Regions from separate parts of the Homo sapiens genome. Here region 2 is linked to region 1. Evidence: fine-mapped expression QTL. A gene starts in region 1. The other region holds a variant in brackets. All regions are shown on one strand. Distances are between the middles of the regions.

Region 1 (4,524 bases):
AAAGCTGGTTCCCATCCACCCTTTGTATTTGCTGTTCTTCTGCCTAGAATGCACCTGTTCCAGATCACTGTTCATTCACACATATCTCAGATTACATGTTAACTAATCAGCAAGGCCTTCCCTGACCATTTTATCAAAAGAAGCCACTTACTTCCATTCTCTATCACATTACCCATGTATTTCCTTCATAGTGCTAATCACAATAGAAAATTGTCTTGTTTCATCATTGCTTGTCTGCCTTTTCACCAGAGTGTAAGCTCCACTAGAGCTGGGACTTTGCCTTTTTTACTGCTATAGCCCAAGTTCCCAGAATACAGACAGTTCCCAACTTAAGATGGTTTGACTTATGATTTTTCGACTTTACAATGGTACAAAAGTGACATTCAGTAGAAATAGTACTTTAAGTACTCTTACAACCATTCTTTTTCACTTTTAGTACAGTATGCAATAAATTACATGAGATATTCAACATTTTATTATAAAACAGGCTTTCTGTTAGATGATTTTGCTCAACTTTAGGTGTTCTGAGCATGTTTAAGGTAGGCTAGGCTAAGCCATGATGTTTAGTAGGTTAGGGGTATTAAGTGCATTTTCAAATTACCATATTTTCAACTTACAATAGTTTCAACGGGAGGTAACCCCATCGTAAGTGGAGGAACATCTAGTGCCTGGCACAGAGCCGGTTCTCAATAAATATAACTCTTCTCCATCTTCTTCAAACCTCAGGCCAGGTTTCAGTGACCTCCTCTCACTTTCTAAGATTATTTTTGCTTGCTGGTGGGTTTACTGTCATTTTTAACCACATCTAACCTACCTTAAAAAAGTGTATGGATGGGGGTGCCAGGTACAAAGACTTAGCATAAAGAAAACGACCATTTACTTTGAAACATAAACAAAGGCCAATTAATAATTTATGAGTCTGTTCCTTGTCCCTCGAGTTTTTAGCAGGCATGGAATCATTCCACAGGTCATTATTTCAGTTTGGTCTCTGTTCCTAAGGGGTGAAGGTTTTCTGAGGGCTGTGGATCCCAAACTCACCTGGCTCAGAGGCTCAAACAGCCTCTCTTTGTCCATCAACCCGATTTAGACAGCATCCTGGGCCTGAAAACCTTCTGTGCTGGCTTCAAGTGAAAATAGTTCACTGGGTCAAAAGTAGGCTGGTCCAAGACGCAGGACGGTCAGTAAACGTTGGCTGTGTTCAGAAACTGCGGCTTGGCTGTTTCTTACATTGATTTATGGTTTGTTTCCATGAAACCGAAAATGATTGGTCCACCTGGCAGCTGGCTGGCTGGCTGGCAACTGGAGGCCTTTCTGTCCTGGCTGAGGGCCCTGGCCCCTTGGTGGCCTTTGGGAAGCAGCATCTCATCGGGCCGTTTTTTCGTTCTGGCGGGCGGCCGGCTTGGCCCGCGGGGTCGGGCTCTCCGCGCAGTGCAGAGACGTCTCCACCCTCAGGGACGAGGCTCTGACGTGGCGGGAGGTCGTTTCCGTGCGCTGCGAGGAGGATTCCACGTGCCGGGAGGACGCCTCGAGGATGCGAGGGAGCCGCTTCCCCGAGGGGGAGAGGGAGGGCCCCTCGCTGCGGCGCTGGGAGGTCTCCACCCGCCGGGACGACGTCTCCACGCGGTGGGACGAGGTCTCCACGCGGACCGTGGACGTCTCTGTGTAGCGGGTGGTCCCCACCCGGGGCGAAGACTGCTTGGCCCCTCGGGCTGAGGCCATTCTGCCGGCGTGAGGGGGCCAGGGAGGCCTCGGGGCACCCTACAGCCCAATGGTCACCGCAGGCAGAAGAGAGGAAAACTACGGTACTGCCATAGCCGGGAGCGCCACAACACGATGACGTGGAAGCACCATGGTCCTTCGAAGGCTAAAACACTGGACTCCTGCCCCTCAGGCGCTCCCACGGCCCGGGCCCCGCCCCCTCGCTATTTTGGAGCCAGCGCGGGTGGAGCCATCCCAGGGCTGGTCGGGGATGGGCGGAGCCGCCCCGCCCCATATCCCACAGTGCCCCGGGACCGGAAGAGGGAGCCGTGGTTTCCGGAACTTCGCCCGCGTCTCTGGGCTTTTGCTCTGTCAGGCTGGTGGCGTTTTGGTGTCTTCGTTTGTTATGGCCGCTGCTGTCGCTATGGAGACAGGTGAGTAGCTCTCTGATCTTGGAGTCTTCGCAGATGGAACTCTCCTTGACCCAGACCTCTTCCCCGTGGCCTCCTTCCAGGCCTTACTCTTGGCAGGGTTAATATTTGGACAGAGAGGAGAGAAGGCTCTTGTAGCGTCTAGAAAGACTAAGGTACTCTTTGCAGTTTTCCTGATTTGGTTTGTTCGCACATCTTTGCTATTCAGACACCACCCCACCAGCTCCCTGGCGTGGGTGAGACTAAGGGAGAGGACTTGTGTGTTAAACCGTGTCCTCCTTGATTGGTTTTCTGCTTCTCACATGAGCTTGCCTAAGTTTGAAATATCGTCGCCAGACTTGTGTATCATTCTGCTACTGGTGCTTCTTTTTTTTTTTTTTTTTGAGACAGCGTCTGGCTCTGTCGCCCAGGCTGGGGTGCAGTGGCGCGATCTCGGCTCACTGCAAGCTCCGCCTCCTGGGTTCACGCCATTCTCCTGCCTCAGCCTCTCAAGTAGCTGGGACTACAGGAGCCCGCCACCGCTCCCGGCTAATTTTTTTTGTATTTTTAGTAGAGACGGGGTTTCACTGTGTTAGCCAGGATGGTCTCGATCTCCTGACCCTGGTGCTTCTTATATGCATGCGCTGCATGATCTTTTAGGCTCTCCGCAGTCTCTTGCATCCTAAGTTTTTCTTTACTGATTCAGCCCCTAGCGTTTGCGAAACTTAATCACTGTTAACAGTTGTTACAACGCATTATTAAAATAGGGGAAGCCACAGTTATTACAGCCTACCTTAGTGATCACTGTTAAAATTCCTACATAGTGGCCCACGAGTGGTAGGAATTCTCCGTTTGTGTTGCTGTTTTCTTTGATGATTTCTCTTTAACTTTAGAGAAACTTCTAACTTACTCCTTTTAATCAGGGCTCCGCTTTTCTTAGATTTCGAAGGAAGGTTTATCTCCTCCCACTCCTAGTTTAGGAAGACCATCTCAACATTAGTCAGGTTTCTTTATTGCTCTTTCCTTACTACAAATCAGTATTATATACAGTGACCTTTGTTTTCCATGATTTTTGCTGTCTTGTCTCCTAGATGATGCTGGAAATCGACTTCGGTTTCAGTTGGAGTTGGAATTTGTGCAATGTTTAGCCAACCCAAATTACCTTAATTGTAAGTTGTTAAGCACCTCATTAAATTGAGTAGCTATTAATGATTTCTGACAGAAGAGTTGCAGTTCAAAATAGTATCTACTTTTACACATTCTCAGTTGAATGACATTACACTTATGCTGGTATATAGATATAATTGCGTACTGGGACTTGTGTTTTGAATCCAATGTGTGTTGGTGGTGGGGGTGTTATGTAAATAGATCCTTTATATTAGGGGTAACAAATCACAGTTTAAGGATTGGTTTGACCTACAGATTTTTTTTTTTAATGCTTTTCAGTTCTTGCCCAAAGAGGTTACTTCAAAGACAAAGCTTTTGTTAATTATCTTAAATACTTGCTTTACTGGAAAGACCCAGAATATGCCAAGTATCTAAAGTAAGTTTAATTTTTATAATCCTAAGCATGTGTATACTTTATTATATAATAGATTTCTTAGTTTCACATTGGCAAAAATGTATTTGGAATCTCTCCACTTCTTTTTGTTATCACCGTCTTAATACAAGACACCCTCATCTCTAACTTGTAACACTGCAGTAATCTACTCCCTGGTTATCTGTGCTTCCACTTTTACCTTCCTGCCCCCATCTCCACCCCAACCCAAACCAAGCAAAACAGCTTTCTACACAGAAACCAGCTTAATCTTTTAAAAATATAAATCAGAACACTTTACTTTCTTGCTTAGAACCTTTCAATGGCTTTCCATTCCATGCAGAATAAAATCCAGTCTTTTTTCTTGGACTAAAGCCTTATACGATCTGGCCCTGCCTTTTCTGACCTTGTCTTTTACCACCCTTCCCATCTCACCAGGTTTCTGGTCCCTAAGAACTCACAATCTGTAAATGTAGTAGCATAAGCCATGGGCTGAAATTAAAAGAGGGTATCTGTAAGGAAGGTGTTTCTGGGGTTATTTGAAGGAGGTGATCTTACCTGAGTCTTAGAGTTGCTGTCTTTTATTTAAGGCCTCTTATTTGCCAGGAACAGTGCTAAATGCTTCATATGCATTAACTCATTTATATATATATATTTACCATTCAGGTCGTTCAGCAGACACTTTCATGTTAAGGCTTACTAAGTTGCAAGAAACATATTATAACCACAAAGCAATTCCCTTTTAATGGTTAAAAAAAAAAAACAAAAAAAACAAAAAAAACCAACCCACCTTGAACTCACACCCCTGCTTTGTCTTAAGCAGGTAGAAAGCAATAATGAACCTTTAAAAAAAAAAAAAAGTTTGAGAGGAAAATGTTT
Region 2 (4,000 bases), 41 kb after region 1:
TTGTTTTTCAAAAATTTCCATGTAGATAAGTATCAGCCCGATACGGAGCTTCCGGAGACCCAGAGGTTGCAGAGTGAGCTTGATGTATTAGATGCGGATATAGTTCTGGAAGAAGGACCATTTATTCTAGACCAAAGTGCAAGCTTCAAAGACGAGGTGTTAGCCGTGGCAAAAACAAAAGCAGGGAAAAAGAAGCCTGTGACTGAGAATGTGCCGTTTAGGAAGAAAGATACTCTGGCGCCAGCAAGACAGCAAGTATGAAATCATTCCTCTCTTTTGGCCCATTTGTGTTAATCTGACATTGTCAAGGTCACATAAACTGGTATATGGTGGAGCCAGTTCTCAGGCAATTGGATGCTGCAGTCCTTGAGTCTGGCTATTTAAGTTGTTTATATATTTTAACAAAAAAATAACAATTTTTAATATTGTTACTAGAATAGAGAATTCTTTCTATTCCTGGTTTGGTAAGATCCTAACTAATATGATACCAATATCCTAATTGGGCAGGAGATTTTAAAATTCAGTTTTTTTTCTGCTTCTGATTTGGAAGTGTGAGACTTGAGGGGATTAAGATTTGGTTCCTGCCGGGTGTGGTGTCTCAGGCCTATAATCCCAGCAATTTGGGAAGCGAGAGGATTGCTTGAGGCCAGGAGTTTAAGACCAGCCTGGGCAACATAGTGAGACCCCATCTCTACTAAAAACAAAATTAGCCAGATGTGGTAACTCATGCTTGTAGTCCCAGCTATTTGGGAGCCTGAGGCAGGAAGATCACTTGATCCCAGGAGTTTGAAGCTGCAGTGAGCTGTGATCGATCCACTGTACTCCAGCCTGGGCAACAGAGTAAGACCCTGTCTTAAAGAAAAAAAAAAATTAGTTCCTGCTAAAGATAAATATCGATCAATAATAATTACTGCATATTAAAAGGGCATCCTAGGGTGAGTGCTTTCTAATATGGCTTTGGGAGCCAGCAGGGTACAACTTGATTTGAAACTACATTATATTTTAAGCTTCTGTTTAAAACTTACTTATGGCCCTATCAGTGGAAAACTGGCCAAAAGACCACCTCCTGGTCGAATACCCTTATTGTATTAGTGACATTTGGTGGTCTTGCCCAAAGGCTTCTTTAGCAAATCTGTTTATTTTCAGGTGGCCTCCAGAAAAGGAGAGTTAGCAGTTATCCCAAGTTATTGACAGATAATGGATTAGGATCAAGTCTGTTTCTTCCCAAACTTCTATGGCAGGGGGCGACCATGAATCATTGAGATGTCAAGATTGAACCTGTAGGAATTCAGATGGGTGCGCCTCTCCACAGACAGCCCGCATTCTCGATAACATTTTTTAAATCGCTAGATTCATTCTATTTAGACCTAAGGCCCAGAGAGGTTAAGTATTTTTATGAAAAATGTTTTACTCATTACTTGAGCCCAGGAGTTCAAGACCAGCCTGGACAACACAGTGAGACCCTGGCTCTACAAAAAATAAAAAATTAGCCAGGCATGGTATCTAACACTTGTGATCCCAGCTATTCAGGAGGCTAAGGCAGGAGAATCGCTTGAGCCCAGGAGTTTGAGGCTGCAGTGAGCTATGATCATACCTCTGCACTCCAGCCTAGGCAACAGAGCAAGACCCTGTCTCTTAAAAAAAAAAAAAAAAAAAA[G/AAG]AGAAAGAAAAGAAAAAAGAAAAATAATTTAACAATATGGTATGAAATTTTTTTTGTTTAATTAGGAAACAAATTGTGAATAAATAAAAATATATTTTATATATTGTTTATATGTTTAAAGGTGTCAGGCAGAGCCAGGGATTTAAATTCTACACCCTCCACCCCCCGCCCCTACCATGGTTGTTTCAATGAAATTTACACCCTCCCCCAAATTTCTGCCACAGTGCTTTCTACTCAGGTTTTACCGAATGGATGCATGAATAACATGGAGAACTTGGAGCTTCAGTGAGTCAGAGGTTAAACCATAGTTTCTTTGGTATTTGTGTGGCCTTATAATTCTTACTTATCTCTCACAGGGACTCCGCAAAGCTGAAAGAGGTAGACAAAGCCAACCTCACAGTAAAAGCAGAGTGCAGCAGACAACAGTTTCATCCAGATTAAAAATGAACCGGCAGCCTGTGAAAGACCGCAAGGCACCATGGATACCCCCAAACCCCACATCCCCACCAGCGTCTCCTAAATGGTATGTGAAAACTCAAGGGACCGTTTGTGTATGTGATGCTCTTTTTCCTCCATATATCAAAGGTGACCTGTAGCTTATAAGGAGCAAATTAAGTAGTAGCCTTAATTTTTTCCATTAAGCAGAAATCCTTTTTTGGGTGAGTCATACATGAGAAGTCTTTGTCTGGAAGCTTGTTGGTTCCTTCTTCTGCCTGACTGTGGTTGGAACACCCTTCCATGGGCCACCCCAACACCGGGACATGTGTGATTGAATGGAAGATGGGGGGCTTCCCTTCACTTGTCTCTTCTGCCAATAGATTCTAGTAACTTGAGGCCAGGGACTGTGTCTTTTTTATATTCTTTTTTATATTTGAATGTCCAGTGCTAGTCACATAGTAGGCATTCAGTAAATCTTTGCTGAGTAAATAAATATTTTAAAATAATTCTAACTCTAAGTCAAGATAATTATGAACTATAAAACTATATAGATCTCACCAACACTGTCTTAGCTGCAGGGAGCAATTAGGATAATGTTGATGTTACTGTCTTGTCATCCTCACTCATAGCACATTAGAATGAGAAGCTGCCATTTCACAGGGCTAGAGAGAAGAGGAGCAGGGTCCAGTTAGGTGGAAATAATCTTTAGGGGAATCGGTTGAAGATAAAGGGGAGCTCGTTTGCCGTGAGGCAGTAGTTTTTGAAAACACAATGGAAAGGACCAGGAGGTGGAACAGAAAAAGGAAAGAAGTAAAAAGCAGTCATGTCAGGGGAGAAGGGAGAAGATAGGTGACTACAGGGTTCTGTCTTTGGAGCCATCAGAAGTCAGGGTGAGCAGCTTGGTGGAAGAGAAGCCCCCTAAGATTCCGAATGAGTGTGAAGGAATGGCCGTGCTCATCCATCCACTCTCATTTTCAAGTTAAGGAAACAATGTTTAGAGAATTTAATGTCTTATTCATGTAACAGCCAGACCTAAAATCAGGTCTTCTGACTTCATAATGTGCTTTTTTTGTTTTTATTACTCTATTCTGTTTTCTGTATTTTTGTATACAAGTATTAATATGGAGATTTACATTCAGTTGATAAGCTCAGTGGTTGAAGTTTGTATTACAAACCAAATATACAATGGACTGTCTTTTAGAGTGCATGTGTGGTGGGTAGAGGAGGGTGGGTGAGGCTTCTAGGCTCAACAGTGCTGTTAGGCCTTATAAAGATACGGAGTTGCCTTATAATATGGAATGTAATTAGTGATCCAAATCTATGTATTGTGACAGAGTTTTGTTGACACTCACCCAATATTCTGTAATTGATCACTGTTTCTCATTTAAAATGGTGATGGCTTCTTTGAAGCAAAGGAGAATTTCTGCCCTTTGACACTGTGCCTGAGTGCGGGAGGATCTCACTTTTCTTCACATTCAGCTTCTACTGTAGGGCCCCGTGCTACAGATCACCATTAATTTAATGCTGTTGTCATCTCTGAGCTGGCACCTACTTGGATGAGTCATTGGATACGGAGTGAATGATGACAAAGGTATGCTTTTCCATTTATTTCAGTGCTGCATGGCTAAAGGTGAAAACTAGCCCCAGAGATGCCACAAAAGAGCCTCTCCAGCAAGAAGATCCTCAAGAGGAAAGTCACCTGACAGGTGCTGTTGAGCATGAAGCAGCCAGGTTTGTGCTGGTATTTTTCAGATCTTTGAGAATTAAAGAGCTCCTTTTACATAGACTTGGAAGTGAACCCTTTCTTCTCTTTCCTACATTTAAAGTTGGTTATTTAAAATGTAGATTATTTTTAAAAATAGAATAAATACATAAAATGTAGTTTATTAAACGTTTCAGTCAAAC

Which allele goes with the higher level. Alleles are on the strand shown, and positions count from the first base shown. SD is a standard deviation of normalised expression in the study named.
For the expression in CD4 T cells of the gene that starts at base 2,028 in region 1, allele G in region 2 goes with a higher level than allele AAG (large effect, 0.81 SD a copy in Kasela 2017).

The links. PIP is the estimated chance that this variant, and not a neighbour inherited with it, causes the effect.
Region 2: its variant is the best candidate, but not a certain one, in a credible set for the expression of MED31 in CD4 T cells (Kasela 2017, PIP 0.83).

What each region holds. Positions count from the first base shown.
Region 1 is chr17:6,649,109-6,653,632 of GRCh38, reverse strand. MED31 (mediator complex subunit 31) reads left to right here and starts at 2,028. Exons shown (of 4, transcript NM_016060.3): 1 at 2,028-2,132; 2 at 3,200-3,277; 3 at 3,555-3,651. The coding sequence starts at 2,105. It overlaps C17orf100 (chromosome 17 open reading frame 100), which reads right to left and starts at 1,871. Exons shown (of 1, transcript NM_001105520.2): 1 at 157-1,871. The coding sequence starts at 1,719. The coding sequence ends at 1,363. RefSeq lists silencers at 1,504-1,553, 1,854-1,933 and enhancers at 2,184-2,313, 2,384-2,463, 2,554-2,613.
Region 2 is chr17:6,608,174-6,612,173 of GRCh38, reverse strand. KIAA0753 reads left to right here. Exons shown (of 19, transcript NM_014804.3): 8 at 26-255; 9 at 2,014-2,180; 10 at 3,710-3,826. Among named protein-coding and RNA genes, the nearest start is that of KIAA0753, 31 kb to the left of the region's middle. The variant G/AAG (reference allele first, on the strand shown) is at 1,658.